Regions from separate parts of the Homo sapiens genome. Here region 1 is linked to region 2. The links come from fine-mapping of genetic effects on gene expression. Tissue or cell type: fibroblasts. Region 2 holds a variant in brackets; the other region holds the start of a gene. All regions are shown on one strand. Distances are from middle to middle.

What was found. PIP is the estimated chance that this variant, and not a neighbour inherited with it, causes the effect.
Region 1: PUS7 starts here. The variant in region 2 is fine-mapped to the expression of PUS7 in fibroblasts (GTEx, PIP above 0.99).

What each region holds. Positions count from the first base shown.
Region 1 is chr7:105,517,205-105,525,386 of GRCh38, forward strand. It overlaps PUS7 (pseudouridine synthase 7), which reads right to left and starts at 5,067. Exons shown (of 16, transcript NM_019042.5): 1 at 4,848-5,067. RefSeq lists enhancers at 2,962-3,579, 3,894-4,548, 5,832-6,332 and silencers at 4,091-4,236, 4,446-5,195.
Region 2 is chr7:105,492,232-105,500,413 of GRCh38, forward strand. It overlaps PUS7 (pseudouridine synthase 7), which reads right to left. Exons shown (of 16, transcript NM_019042.5): 6 at 2,911-3,022. Among named protein-coding and RNA genes, the nearest start is that of PUS7, 26 kb to the right of the region's middle. The variant AAAGTATTAC/A (reference allele first, on the strand shown) is at 4,530.

The DNA of each region.
Region 1 (8,182 bases), 25 kb after region 2:
GGAGTACAGTGGTGTGATCTCTGCTCACTGCAACCTCCACCTCCTGGGTTCAAGTGATCCTCCCGCCTCAGCCTCCCAAGTAGCTGAGAGTACATACAGGCATGCGCCAACACGCCTGGCTAATTTTTGTATTTTTAGTAGAGACGGGTTTTCACCATGTTGGCCAGGCTGGTCTTGAACTCCTGACCTCAGGTGATCTGCCTGCCTCGGCCTCCCAAAGTGCTGGGATCACAGGCATGAGCCACCACGCCTGGCCAATCCTTCACATTTCTTTGGAGGGAATGCTAAAATAATGTTTTTTGTTTCCTCTGCACTCCAAATGAGACAACTGAGAATAGAAATATTATAATTTTAACAGTATTTTAAAACCCTTTTCATTAAAATACTAGATTCACCAACTAAGCTTTAAGAAGTACTCTTAGCTGGGCATGTGTGCATGTAGTCCCAGCTAACAGGGCGGCTGAGGCAGGAGGATTGTGTGAGACCAGTTTAAGGCTGCAGTAAGTTATGATCACACCACTGCACTCCAGTCTGGGCAACAGAGGGAGACTTCATCTCTGAAAAAATGCAGGCAGGTAGATGGCTTGAGACCAGGAGTTTGAGACCAGCATGGACAACATAGTGGGACCATGTCTCTGCAAAAAATTAAAAAATTAGCCAGGCAGCTGGGTGTGGTGTCTCATGCCTGTAATCCCAGCACTTTCGGAGTCCGAGGTGGGCAGATCACAAGGTCAAAAGTTCGAAATCAGCCTGGCCAGCATGGCGAAACCCCATTTCTACTAAAAATCCAAAAATTAGCCATGCATGGTGGTGTGGCCCTGTAATCCCAGCTACTCAGGAGGCTGAGACAGGAGAATCGCTTGAACTGGGGAGACAGAAGTCGCAGTGAGCCGAGATTGCGCCACTGCACTCCAGCCTGGGTGACAGAGGGAGACTCTGTCTCAAAAAATAAATAAAAATAAGCCGGGCAAGGTGGCATGCACCTGTAGTCCCAGCTACTTGTGAGGCTGAGGTGGGAAGATCCACTGCGCCCAGGACGTTGAGGCTGCAGTAAGCCGTGATGGTGCCACTACACTTCAGCCTGGGTGACAGAAAGACCCTGTCTCAAAAAAAAAATAAAATCCTTTACACCTATAACAAAAATTAAGTTTAGCATTTTCAAAATTTTAATATAACACTAACAACAGTCTCTTGTTTGTTTATTTATTTATTTTTTGAGACAGTGTCTCACTCTGTCACCCAGGCTGGAGTGCAGTGGCGTGATCTCAGTTCAATGCAGCCTCGACCTCCCAGCTCAAGCGATCCTCCCACTTCAGCCACCCGAGTAACTGGGACTACAGGCATGTGCCACCATGCCCAGTTAATTTTTGTATTTTTTGTAGAGACAGGGTTTTGCCATGTTGCCCACTAGTCTCAAACTCCTGAGCTCAAGTGATCTGCCCTGCCTCAACTGGGATTACAGGTGTGCACCACCGCCCAGGCCAAACAGTCCCTTATTAATTAATTCCTCCAAAATAAACATCAGAAAAACAGCCATTAGTCTTTTTTTGAATTATTTTTTATTTTATTTTGTATATTTTTTGAGACGGAGTCTCACTCTATTGCCCAGGCTGGAGTGCAGTGGCGCAATCTCGGCTCACTGCAACCTCTGCCTCCCGGGTACACGAGATTCTCCTGCCTCAGCCTCCTGAGTAGCTGGGATTACAGGCGCCCGCCACAACACCAGGCTAATTTTTTGTATTTTTAATAGAGATGGGCTTTCACCGTGTTATCCAAGATTGTCTCGAACTCCTGACCTCATGATTCGCCCGCCTCGGTCTCCCAAAGGGCTGGGATTACAGGCCTGAGCCACCGCGCCCAGCCTACAAAAACAGCCATTAGTCTTAATTCTATCATATTATATTTCAAAACTATCCACAACTTTCACTTTGTAAATACATCTTTCCTCCATCCCCTGCAAATTATCAGTAATCTCTATAGCTCTCACAATAGTGAGCATTTTCTTTAGGGCCAGAGCACAGAGAACACACTAATTTTTTTTTTTTTGGAGATGGAGTTTTCCTCTGTTGCCCAGGCTGGAGTGCAGTGGTGCAGTCTCGGCTCACCGCAATCTCCACTTCCAGCGTTCCGGCGATTCTCCTACCTCAGCCTCCCGAGTAGCTGGGATTACAGGCATGGGCTAAAATTACCACATCCAGCTAATTTTTGTATTTTTAGTAGAGAGGGGGTTTCGCCATGTTGGCCAGGATGGTCTCAAACTACTGACCTGACCTCAAACGAGCTGCCTGCCTCGGCCTCCCAGAGTGCTGGGATTACAGGCATGATGTCACCAGGCCCGGCAGACACACTGCATTCTAATATGCAAAATCATTAAGTCTATGAGGGTCATTCATTCTGCAAATATTTACTGAGCAAGTGTCCTATGTGTCTGGCATTGTTGTAGGTACTGGAAGAAAAGGGTAATACCATTTCCTGTCCTCATGTAGCTTACAATGTATTTGAGAATATATCTGAGAACAAAATAAATCTCAGGACATGCGAGCTCCAAAGAATTAAAACAGGGTAAGGGGCTGAGAGTAAGAGGGGTGTTCTTCAGTGATGCCTCGTCTAAGGAGGAGACTTCTGAGCAAAGACAAGGAAGAACCAGACAGGAAAAGATGTGTGTGAGGAGAGCTCCAGGCAGCCCGAACAGCACGTGTAAAGGACCTGAAACCGGAGCAAACTTAGTCGACAGTATGACCAGCTGGATTGTTCTCTCTCTCTCCTAGGTAAGGAAAAACGCTGCTTCATTAATACAGTACATGCATGCCCCTGCCTCTATCAAAAGACACGTTCAAGGCCGGGTGTGATGGCACACGCCTGTAATCCCAGCACTTCGGAAGGCTGAGGCGGGTGGATCACCTGAAGTCTGAAGTTCAAGACCAGCCTGGCCAACATGGTGAAACCCCGTCTCTACTAAAAATACAAAAATTAGGCGGGGCGCGGTGGCTCACGCCTGTAATCCCAGCACTTTGGGAGGCAGAGGCGGGCAGATCATGAGGTCAGGAAATCGAGACCATCCTGGCTAACACAGTGAAACCCCGCCTCTACTAAAAATATAAAAAATTAGCCGGGCGTGGTGGCGGGCGCCTGTAGTCCCAGCTACTCGGGAGGCTGAGGCAGGAGAATGGCGTGAACCCGGGAGGCGGAGCCTGCAGTGAGCCGAGATCGCGCCACTGCAATACATCTCCAGCCCTCAAGCTGGGTGAATGCTTAACGAGTGGATGGAGGTGCTGCCTCTGCAATACATGTGGGCGACAGAGCGAGACTGTCTCAAAATAAATAAATAAATAAATAAATAAATAAATAAATAAATAAAAATACAAAAATTAGCTGGGCATGGTGGCGTGCACATGTAATCCCAGCTACTCCGGAGGCTGAGGCAGGAGAATCGCTTGAACCCAGGAGGCTGAGGTTGCAGTGAGCCAAGATCGTGCCATTGCACTCCAGCCTGGGTGATGGAGTGAGACTCCGTCTAAAAAAAATAAATCAAAAAACAAAGATATGTTCAAGGCCGAGTGTGGTTGCTCAAGCCTGTAATTCCAGCACTTTGGGAGGTCAAAGCAGGAGGATTGCTTAAGGTCAGGAGTTTGAGGCCAGGCTGGGCAACACAGCGAGACCCTGTGTGGTGGCACATGCCTATAGTCCCAGCTACTTGGGAGGCTGAGGTGAGAGGATTGCTTGAGCCCAGGAGTTCAAGGCTGCAGTGAGCGATGATCACGCAACTGCACTCCAGCCTGGGCAACAAGAGCAAAATTCTGTCTCAAAAAAATTAAAAAAATAAAAATAAAAAAACCAAAAACATGTTCACAAGGAGTTGTTAAGTACGTACTGTTGGCTACTTTCCTAATGTTTGAACCTAACAATTGCCTAACCAACCCCTTTTCAATAGTGTTGTACAGTCTGATTTTCGACAGATCCCTCAATAGTCGAGGCTCCCCCAGGCCAATGGGGCATAGTCATTTCATAGATGATTAGAGGCTTGGGGATGGGGGGGAGGGAACCTTAGTAACCCTTTATTTTTGGAATGGAAAAAAAAAGTAGTCTGACGGGACCAAATATTTTAAAAACTAAACTCTTTGCCAACCCTACTCGGCAGGCAACGAAGGTGTGCTTCTAAACACCTCTGCGCAGGGCTGACGAGGAGGACTCGAATTTCAGCTTGCACAGCAGCACCTCCATCCACTCGTTAAGCATTCACCCAGCTTGAGGGCTGGAGAAAGCACTCTGAGTCTGCAGCCCGTCCACTCCTACTCTGGGAAATGCATACAAAGCAAGCAGTCCCCAGAGCCCGCGTGGCGCCTAGTAGGCTCCCAGTGAGCGGCGACGCAGGACACAGGGGTGGAACACGTGGGCTGGACCCACAGAAGGCAGGCGCGGCGAAGCAGTGGCACCGTGAAGGGCTTCAGGGCCAGTGTTCCTCTGACGGAGGGACAAGAGTTTAGGGAGCGTCCGGGGCAAAGAAAGGGAGGAGTGGGAAGGGGGCCCCCGGGGGACAGCGCCGCGCGGGGAGGAGGGGAGCGCTCGGGCGCGGCGCCTCCGGACGACTGGCCGGGCAGAGCGGAGCGGGGAGCGGGGAGCGGAGAGCGGCGCCTGCACCGCCGAAGCGCAGGACCCACTGGGTTCCAACCGTGCTCCCGCTGGCACGATCCATAATGGAGGCGCCGCGGGCTCTGACCACTGCGGGGCCGCCTTCCCAGTCCGCCTTCCCAGTCCGCACTGCCTCTTGGGGCGGGGCCCTGGGGCTGGGGCTGGGGCCAGGGCCAGGCCGAGGAGCCCCGGCGGCCGCGGGGAGGCCGCGCACTTACCCGGAGCCTGGGAGCGCGGGCGCGGCGTGAGCTGGGCGGCGAGGTGGCCAGCGCTCTGGTTGGGACGCAAGAGAGCGGCGAAGGCCACTTGGATGAGCCAGCGGCTAGGGCGGCCAGGCAAAAGCAGCGCTTTCCGCGCGGAGGACCAGATGCGCTCCAGCCGACTCACCGGCGGCCGGGCTCGCACACGTGCGGCGCAGCGACGCGCCGCGGCCCGACTGGACCCGCCCCGGGGGCGGAGTCCGCTCCCTGCCGCCGGCCCCGCCCCCGGCCCACCCACTCGGAGCGGCCTGCAAGCCAGGGAGCGCCCCAACGCGGACTCCCAGCCTACGCGCGTTCACCCTGGACCTTCCTCGCGACCGCGCCTGAGTCGCACCAGCGGCAGAGAGCGATTTCACCAAGCATCTAAGAGTTCTTTAGATCTTTAGGAAGTCTAAGGCAGCGATTGCCTCCTTTGGTGTTATATTCTAAGTGTTTCCTTCACATAGTTGTGGCCCTTTCACGTTGCACCGACCACGCAGTTGACAATAATGGAAAGAGAATCACTTTAGGGACTAAATATTGTTCTACATTTGATCCTGGGAATGTAGTGGATCTAAAAGCACCATCTTCCTACTTCTTACCGCTCTGGCTTGATGGCTTGCCATAGGATCTGCTTCAAGAAACCGGATCATAGGTTTTTTTTGTTTTGGTTTGGTTTGGTTTTGACAGAGTCTCGCTCTGTCGCACAGGCTGGAGTGCGGTGGCGTGAACACAGTTCACTGCAGCCTCGACCTCCCAGGCTCAAGCAATCCTCCCACTTCAGTATCCCAAGTAGCTGGGACTACAGGTGCATCCCACCGCACCCAGGCTAATTTTTTTGGGGGTGGGGGGTAGAGACAAGATTTCACTATGTTGCCCAGGCTCTAATAGTTTTTTTGCTTTTTGTTTGTTTGTTTGTTTTTTGAGACGGAGTCTTGCTCTGTCGCCCAGGCTGGAGTGCAATGGCGCGATCGCTGCTCACCGCAACCTCCGCCACCCGGGTTCAAGCGATTCTCCTGCCTCAGCCTCCCGAGTAGCTGGGATTACTGGCGCACGCCACCATGCCCGGCTTATTTTTTGTATTTTTAGTAGAGTACGGGGTTTCACTATGTTGGCCAGGCTGGTCTCGAACTCTTGACTTCGTGATCCGCCCGCCTCCGCCTCTGTGTTGAGATTACAGGCGTGAGCCACCGCTCCCAGCCTCTAATAGTTTTTCCGTTTTGTTTTATTTTGTTTGAGAGAGAGTCTCACTCTGTTGCAGGGTTCAAGCGATTCTCCTGCATCAGCCTCCCGAGTAGCTGGGCCTACGAGTGCTTGACATCATGCCAGACTAATTTTTTTGACGGGGTTTTTGCCTGTTGGCCTTGAACTCCTGACCTCAAGTGATTTGCCTGCCTAGGCCTCCCAAAGTACTGGGATTATAGGCATGAGCCACCATGCCCTGCCCAATTTGTTTTTTTGTTTTGTTTTTTACACAATGAAATATACTATTACCGGCCGGGCGCAGTGGCTCACGCCTGTAATCCCAGCACTTTGGGAGGCCGAGGTGGGCGGATCATGAGGTCAGGAGTTTGAGACCAGCCTGGCCAACATGGTGAAACCCCGTCTCTACTAAAAATACAAAAAATTACCCAGACGTGGTGGCACGCGCCTGTAATCCCAGCTACTTGGGAGGCTGAGGCAGGAGAATCGCTTGAACTCAGGAGGCGGAGGTTGCAGTGAGCTGAGATCGCACCATTGCACTCTAGCTTGGGCAACAAGATGGAAACTCTGTCTCAAAAAAAAAAAAAGAAATATATTATTACCATACAATTCAGCAATTACACTCCTTGATATTTACCTAAAGGAGTTGAAAACTATGTTCACACAAAAACCTGCACAAGTATGTTTATAGCTGCATTATTCATAATTGCCAAAACTTAAGGACGGGCCGGGTATGGTAGCTCACGCCTGTAATTCCAGCACTTTGGGAGCCCGAGGTGGGCAGATCACGATGTCAGGAGTTCAAGACCAGCCTGGCCAAGATGGTGAAACCCCCATCTCTACTAAAAATACAAAAATTAGCCAGGCGTGATGGTGGGCGCCTGTAATCCCAGCTACTCAGGAGGCGGAGGCAGAAAATTGCTTGAACCCAGGAGGCAGAGGTTGTGGTGAGCCAAGATCATGCCACTGCACCCCAACCTGGGGGACAGAGTGAGACTCCGTCTCAAAAAAAAAAAGACCAAGATGTCCTTCAGTAGCTGAATAAACTGTGCTGTATCCAAACAATGGAATATTATTTGGTGCCAAAAAGAAATGATCTTAGCAAGCCATGAAAAGACATGGAGGAAACATAAATAAATATTTTTTATTTTATGTATTTATTTATTCTGAGATCTAAATAGATAAGGTGATCTGCCCACCTCGGCCTCCCGAAGTGCTGGGATTACAGGCGTAAGCCACCATGCCCAGCCTTAAACGCATATTACTAAGTGAAAGAAACCAATCTGGGCCAGGCATGGTGACTCAGGCCTGTAATCACAGCATTTTGTGAGGCTGAGGCAGGTGGATCACTTGAGGTCAGGAGTTCGAGACCAGCCTGGCCAACACCGTGAAACCCCATCTCTACCAAAAATACAAAAAATTAGCCAGGCATGGTGGCACACACCTGTAATCCCAGCTACGCGGGAGGCTGAGGCGGGAGAATTGCTTGAACCTGGGAGGTGGAGGTTGGGGTGCGTCGGGATCATGCTATTGCACTCCAGCCTGAGCGACAGAGTAAGACTGTCTAGAAAACAACAACAACAACAACAACAAAAAAAAAAAACAAAAAAAATCTGAAAAGGACACGAGCTATATGAATCCAACTAAATGACAAAATGACATTCTAAAAAAGGCAAAACTATATAAGACAGTAATAAAATTAGTGGTCGCCAGGAGTTAGGAGAAAGGGAAGGATGAATAGGTGGAGCACAGAGAATTTTTAGGGAAGTGAAACTATTCTGTATGATACTGTAATGCTGGCTGTATGTCATGATACATTTGTCCAAGCCCATAAAATCTACAACAGGGGTCCCCAGCCCCCCCAAGTCACGGACTGGTACCAGTCAGTGTGGCCTTTTGGGAACCAGGCTGCACTGCAGCATTCCCGCCTGAGCTCTGCCTCCTGTCAGATCAGTGGTGGGATTAGATTCTGATAGGAGCGAGAACCCTACTGTGAACTGCACATGTGAGGGATCTAGGTTGCATGCACCTTATGAGAATCTAATGCCTGATGATCTGAGGTGTAACAGTTCATCCTGAAACCCATTCCTACCCCCTAGTCTGAGGAAAAA
Region 2 (8,182 bases):
AACAGCCACTGCACACTACACTCCTGCCTGGGTGACGTAGTAAGACCTGCTCTCTTTAAAAAAAAACAAAAAAGGTAAATGATGGCCAAATAATTCTTCGCTTTTTTTTTTGAGACGGAGTCTCTCTCTGTCACCCAGGCTGGAGTGCAGCGGCACAATCTTGGCTCACTGCAACCTCTGCCTCCTGGGTTCAAGCAATTCTCCTGCTTCAGCCTCCCAAGTAGCTGGGATTACAGGCATGCACCACCACATCTGGCTGATTTTTTGTATTTTTTTTTTTTTTTTTTTTTTTGAGACAGAGTCTCGCTCTGTCGCCCAGGCTGGAGTGCAGTGGCGGGATCTCGGCTCACTGCAAGCTCCGCCTCCCGGGTTCACGCCATTCTCCTGCCTCAGCCTCCCAAGTAGCTGGGACTACAGGCGCCCGCCACTACGCCCGGCTAATTTTTTGTATTTTTAGTAGAGACGGGGTTTCACCGTTTTTTAGCCGGGATGGTCTCGATCTCCTGACCTCGTGATCCGCCCGCCTCGGCCTCCCAAAGTGCTGGGATTACAGGCGTGAGCCACCGCGCCCGGCCGATTTTTTGTATTTTTAATAGAGATGGGGTTTCGCCATGTTGGCCAGGCTGGTCTTGAATGCTCGACCTCAGGTGATCCACCCGCCTCGGCCTCCCAAAGTGCTAGGATTACAGGGGTGAGCCACTGCGCCCAGTCAATAATTCCTTTCTTAGCAGTGTAAACATTTGTGGCTATTAGTAAATAACTGATGTTGTTCAAAGACTTGGCTAGCCAGCAACAAAAAAGGCAACAATGCACTTCCTATCCATCATCTACAATTCATTACATTACATAAGACAGTGAAAGCAAAGAAAAATGCATTCTAGAGATATAATGTACCACTATGAAAATTTATCTTCAGTTTTTAAAAAGTTATTGTGTGAATTTTCCATGCTGCTATTGCTTTGTATTAAAAAATGAAAAAAGCCAAATGAAATGCTAAAACTGGGATCTGAATAGTTTTGATATGAAGATAATAAGTAACCTAGTTAACTAAGAAGTATTTTATAAACTTAACCGTTCCATATGAGAAGGAAAAAGCCAGGAAGGATTTCTTAAATCCTGAGCAATCCTCAACTCCCGATCTTGGAGGAACTCCCTCCCCACCCACCTATTCCTGTCAAGAATCGTCTGTTCTCTCTGGCTCAGGTACAGGCATAGTAGCACAGACTCTCTCCCAGGGAGTTAATAAATAGAGCAAAATAAATGTTACTTAATTGGGTACTGTGTATTATGGGCTGAACTGTGTCTCCCCCAAAATTAGTATGTTGAAGCTCTGACCCCCCAGGACCTCAGAATGTGACTGTATTTGGAGATAGGGCCTTCAAAGAGGTGATTCAGTTAAAATGAGGCCATTTAGGGTGGGCACTAATCCAATCTGACTGGTATCCTCCTAAGAAGAGGAAATGGGGACACACACAGATACCAGGGGTGTGCGTGCACAGGGAAAATGCCACATGAAGACACAGTGAGAAGGCAGCCATCTGCGAGCCAAGGAGAGAGGCTTCCGGAAAAAAAACAAACTTGCCGACACCTTGAGCTTGGGACTGTTAGCCTCTAGAAGCATATGAAAAGTAATTTCTGTTAAGCCACCTGATCTGTGGTATTTTGTTATGGAAGTCCTAGCAAATTAATACACTGTTTCCATATTTAAAATGAGTTAAATATATATTGGAAACCAAATTTCCACAGCATACAGACTTGCTGTGGTGTGTAGCCACTTCCATTTTTAAGAAAAGCTTTGGCACCTTGCCGATCCCCAGAGATCCAGTCTCTGCTATATTTACATTCCTGTTAGAAAATCAGACCGGTCTCAGGTTTAGTCAGTCTCCAGGAATTGAGAGCTCCCAGTCTGGCAAAACCAACCTCTGCAACCACGTCAAAGGATAAGTATAGGCTTTCAAAAGAGAAAGTTAATTTTTATTTTCAACCAGATTGTTAACTCTCAGCTGCATGCGAATCATTTACTTATGGAATTTTCATCTTGAATTATTGGCACTACGTATGTGGGGGTCAAAAAAATTAATTCATCCATTGCCTAAGAAAACTATCCTCACGGCCTGGCACAGTGGCTCACGCCTGGAAGAAACAATGCACTTCCTATCCATGATCAGTGATTTTTTTTTTTTTTTTTTTTTTTTTTGAGATGGAGTCTTGCTCTGTTGCCAGGCTGGAGTGCAGTGGCACAATCTCGGCTTACCGCAACCTCTGCTTCCCAGGTTCAAGCAATTCTCCTGCCTCAGCCTCCTGAGCAGCTAACACTACAGGCACATGCCACCATGCCCAGCTAATTTTTGTATTTTTAGTAGAGATTGGGTTTCACCATGTTGGCCAAGATGGTCTCGATCTCTTGACCTCGTGATCTGCCTTCCTCGGCCTCCCAAAGTGCTGGAATTACAGGTGTGAGCCACTGCGCCAGGCCGATCGGCAATTCTTAATCCCAGTACTTTGGGAGGCTGAAGTGTGAGGACTGCTTGAGCACAGGAGTTCGAGACCAGCCTGGGCAATATAGTGAGACTCTGTCTCTAAAACCTAATAAAATTAGCCTGGCATTGTGGCATACGCCTGTAATCCCAGCTACTCAGGAGGCTAAGGTAGGAGGAATGCCTGAGCCCAGGAAGTCAAGGCTGCAGTGAGCCTGATCATACCATCATTCACTCCAGCCTGAGTGACAGAGTGAGACTGTCTAAAAAAAAAAAAAAAAAAAGAAAGAAAGAAAGAAAGAAAACTATCATTGGGAGGAGCATTTACTATCTGTAATCTGTGCTCCTCCTGCTCCTTTTTCCATTAGCATGGAAAAAGGAATATACGTTTCTGTTGCTTTGATTTTGTATAGGCATAACAACAGTAACTCACCTTAAGTATTTGGAGAGTACATTAATAGCATCCATGGTGTCTTTGTTTTCCTTATATAGTACGAAGTGGCAGTAACTTCCCCTAGATTTTGGCCAAGAATGTTTTCTTGGATCTTGAAAGCAAAAGAATTAACATTATATATACCATAATAAAAGTTATAGATGTAAGAGCTCATTTTTCGCTATAGAACCTTTGAGTGGAAAATCAGTTCTAGTCTGATAAAGAAATACAGGTTAAGTGGTTATAGCTGTGTGGACTAGAGGTATTACATTTCCTGTAATTGGACACTTAACATTATCTATCCATATTAAAAATAAAAAGCTAAAATGTGGCTGGGCACGGTGGCTCACACCTGTAATCTCAGGACTTTGGGAGGCCAAGGCGGGCAAGATGGCTTGAGCTCAGGAGTTCAAGACTGGCCTGGGCAACATGGCAAGACCCGTCTCCACTAAAAATAGCCAGGCATGGTGGTACACGCCTGTGGTCCCAACTACTCAGATGGCTGAGGTGGGAGGATCACATGAACATGTAGGGTGGAGGTTGTAGTGAACCGAGATCATGCTACTGCACTCCAGCATGGGTGACAGAGCAAGACCCTGTCTCAAAAAATAAATAAAAGAAAAACATTTTTAATTAAAAAAAAGAACATAAAAAAATTAAGCCAGGTTAAATGTTAACTTCTGAGCAGCTAGTGTTACTTCAGTTGTTCAATCCTGTGTTAAACAATGTAAGATTTAGGCCGAGTGTAATCCCATGCACTGTAATCCCAGCACTTTGGGAGGCTGAGATGGGCGGATCACCTGAGGTCAGGAGTTTGAGACAAGCCTGGCCAACATGGTGAAACCCCGTCTCTACTAAAAATACAAAAATTAGCTGGGCATTGTGGCGAGTGCCTGTAATTCCAGCTACTTGGGAGGCTGAGGCAAGAGAATTGCTTGAACCCAGGAGGTGGAGGTTACCGAGCCAAGATCGTGCCATTGCATTCCAGCCTGGGCAACAAGAGCGAGACTCCGTCTCAAAAAAAAAAAAAAGTATGCATATCTACACACACACACATATATATATATATATATATATATATATATAGAGAGAGAGAGAGAGAGAGAGAGAGAGGGAGAGACACATACATATATATGCTTTAGATTTAAGCTGCTCAAAATGTTTTTTTTTAAGTACTTTGGGAAAAATATGTAAGCCTAAACTGCACTTTATAGACGCTGTACAATAACATTCATGAGTCCTGTGTGGCACAGAGCTGCAGTTGTTACTTAAACAACACATCTAGTTCATTTGATTACTGTAACTCCATGAAAGAAAAACTGAAAAAATGTTTCATACAACAATTCCTAGAAAGAGTCCTCTTCTTTTAAAAATAATCCTTTTTCATGAACTCATGAATCCCTTATCTTCAGAGGCTTAAGATACTGCTGGTACCGAAGCTGGTACTTGGATACCTGGCTTTGTCAAGGCAAAAGCACTGTTTGGTAAGTTAGTGATAAGTTACAATGAAAAGAACAAAAGACTCCATAAACCATTTCAGAAAACTGCCATAGCATGTATGCTTAGTGAATCACCCTTCCTTCTTGATAAATATGTGAGTTTTTTCTGTCTTGGACAGA[AAAGTATTAC/A]AAGTATTTCTTTAGTCCTTGGTGTGAATTCCTCACAAGTTCTTCAGAAAACTGTTGAGCAGGAATATCATTTTCGGTTTTCCTTCCAGCTCACTATCAGTTAAGCAAAGTTGTCTATACTTAGCACTTGTGACAAAATCTTTGGCATTTCACTTTATCTACATGAAATGCCAAATGCTCTTACCTGCTGCAGTTCTGACCTCTGTCCAAATGCACAGCATAAAGAGCACAAAAGAGCAATGTTTAATTTATAATATTAAAGTGCTTTAGAGGTGAACATGCAAATGATCGCATGGTTAAGTTTACACTGAGGACTTCTACAGCACCCGGTAGTTATGCGGTGGGTTAACAGCCATTTAGACATTAACAATGGAATGTTTTAGAGGCAAACAGTGAACAAGTAGAAAACTCTTCTACAGGTGCAGCCTCCTTGTCTCAATCCCTTCACAATGGGCATGTTAGTTCACGCTCAAAGCTGCACTGTCTGTACCCATGAGATGAAGCAAAAGGTTTAAGGATAGTAAATGCTTCCCCAAAAAGAGATCTGTTTACTTAAATATGGGAGGACATGTACCAAAATGCTATTTGTGATTATCTTTTTTTTGATAGTGAGACAAGTAACTATTGCTTTGCTTTTTCTGCGTTTCATGAATTTCTTGCATTGAATTATAAAGACTTTTAAATTTGAAAAATGTTAAATATTATAGAAAACAGCTAAGTTCTTTATAGATTAAAAAAGATTTAAGAGACGACTTAAGAGGCTTATCAATGAGTGCAATGTTCTGACCTTGTTTTTATCATTCTTTGAACAAGCCATCTGCATATAAAAAAGACATTTTTGAGATACAGCAAAACCAAATATGCAATAGGTATGTGATAGGAAGAAATTATTGTTGATGTTTTTGGATGTGATAATAGTTTGGGGTTTCAGTCCTCATCTGGCAAATAGATACTGAAATATTTATGAGTGAAAAGCCATGCTATGTAGAATTTCCTTTAAAATGCTCCAGCAAGAAAAAAAAGGAGGAAGGATAAATCAATAAAACAACAGAATGTTGATAATCTTAAAGATGGTTTATGGGTACATAGGTTCCATATACTATTTCCTCTATTTGACTGCAAGTTTGAAAATGTCCATAATAAAAACTTTAAAAACACTTGTGATAAAAGTTGATGAAGTGTAGCTACATTTTTCTCAACTACCCCTTTGGAGTATTCATAATTAAGTATAATGACAAGAAATAAATGAAGCCACAAGACTCAAAAACTAAATGCTGCTATACCTTAAGAGAAACCATGACAACAGAGTATGAGTTTTGGCTCACAAGCATGCATCTTCTATTTAGCAAATCCAAGCACTGAGCATGCATACAATTATCTCCTTTGCAAACAACAGATACAAGTATGCATTCTTTTTCTAAGTACACTCAATATACAAAATAGTAAGCATATGCATTGATTAACTGGGAATATTTTAAATAACAGAAAATCAATGAGTCTCCATTTATTTTGGGCAATTTGTGTGACTTTATAAAACTCCACCCCCTAAGAATGCTAAGCAGCATATACTTAGCTTTACAATTTGAATGAATTTAAAATAACTTGCAGACATTTTTGAGACACTGATTTATACTGCAAATGCACAGAATTCCCAGGCTGGGTAATATGGTTCCTATTTGAAGAAGGCTGCATCCAGCTTCTGAGGGCCTAACAAGGCAGTCCCAGTCTAGCAGAAATGGAAACCAGATAAAAGGGAAACCAAGTTCAGGAAGTTTGATTTATTGAGCACAGACATCTCCATGAATAAAGAAGGAAAAATGTTTCTAGCTGAGAAAGATGAAAAGATGGGGTAGCATGCGGAACATTCCTTCCTTCTTATTCAAGGTCATTCCCACCATCACACCCCTGCACACCAACCTTCAGCTTTTTCAGGGATCCTACTCCATCCATTATCTTTATTTTGTTATTTGCCTCCCTGAATTTTCACCTTCTCTCTCCATTGTCTCTTTCCTTTTTGAAAATATATATTTTTCTTTTTATAGAGATGAGGTTTTGCCATGTTGGCCAGGCAGGTCTGGAACTCCAGGCCTCAAGTGATCTGCCCGCCTCGGCCTCTCAAAGTGCTGGGATTACAGGCGTGAGCCACTGCGCCTGGCCCTCCATTGTCTCCCTTGCATATATAAATAACTCACAGCTCTTCCATCTTAAAAGCCTAACCTATGTTCCCCTCTCCTTAATTATGTTCGCTTCTTCTCCTCTTTGCAGGTTATTTGAAAAAGCAGTCTGTATATACTACCTTCCATCTCAACCTACTATGTAAACTGGTTTCCAACCTCATCATTCCACTAGAATGCTCCGGTGAAAAGACACCAACAACTTCCATGTTGCTAAACTGATAGACAGGTTTCAGAGTAATTATCTTGCTGGACCTATCTGTAGCATTTTCCATTGCCACAGGAATGGAAGCAATGGTAGTCCATTGATCACTCTGATTATTGGGATTCCCTATTCCTGTGGATTCTATAACACCAGTCTTTCCCAGAGAGCTTCTTTGTACCTGTCTAGCTCTTCCTCCTGAGTCTCTATGGATTCCTACATACAGGGATCCCTCCTGGGGACCATTCATTTCAGAAAGTATAGAGAACCTGTACCTATCACATGGCAGAATTTTCTTTTTTTTACATAAGTCTTTAAAAACTATGTTCTTAGAAGCATTTGGAATGTATACTGTCTCAAAATATAAATTAATTTATCAGTAATGTTATGATAGTTTAGATGGTATTTTAAAAAAAAATCACATATACATTTTGGTAGGTAAAGCAATGTGCCCTATCAGACTGGCTTAACACATAAAATAATGTCTGAGTTTAAATAGTTGGTAATTTGTGGTGTTTGGGAACAATGATTTAGAATCCACCACATCTATGTTTTAGGATGCACAGTTCTATCTGAGAAAAGTTCAGGTTAAGAATATTGTGAATCTGCTAGATAATGCATAATAACAATTTCTATCAGGATCTGGTAGTAATACAGCTAAAAAAAAACTGTAAATTACAAAGCTTTGTAATGATACTTTAAAAGCTAAATCATTCAAATGCTAGGCAAGATGGCTCAGGAGGACAAGCTGTCGCTGGTAGAGGGCCATGAACAATAATCTTTGGATACCAGCTCTTCCTCCTTTCCTAGGGGTGTTCACTTTAGGCCACTCTCAGCTTGGGGAGAGTGGGGTCTATAAAAATGAATGCAGGCTCCTAAGTGCCCATCTGTGCCAGGGGTGGCCTTCCATGAGGAGGTGGGAGAGATGGCAGAGATTTAGTCCATCTTTGAAGAAATGTCACAACACCACAAGCCCAAGAAGTGTGGTTCTCTATACAAGAGGGAGTTGATCCAATCTGACTTCCTTCTTGCTTCTTTTTAAAGTGAGAAATTCCTTTCTTACTGAAGGTGTCCAAACGAAAATGGGGAAGGGTGGTTCACATCGCACAGCTCAGTACTTCACTTGTAAAATCTTAAGGAAACTTCGTAACAACAACAACAAAAAAAAGAAAGGCGGGTGTCGCATAAGCAGAGAAAATGTGGATAAAAACACAACATGAGAGACCTGGCGCTGTGTTTAATGAAGGGGATGGGTAGAAAGGCTGTAA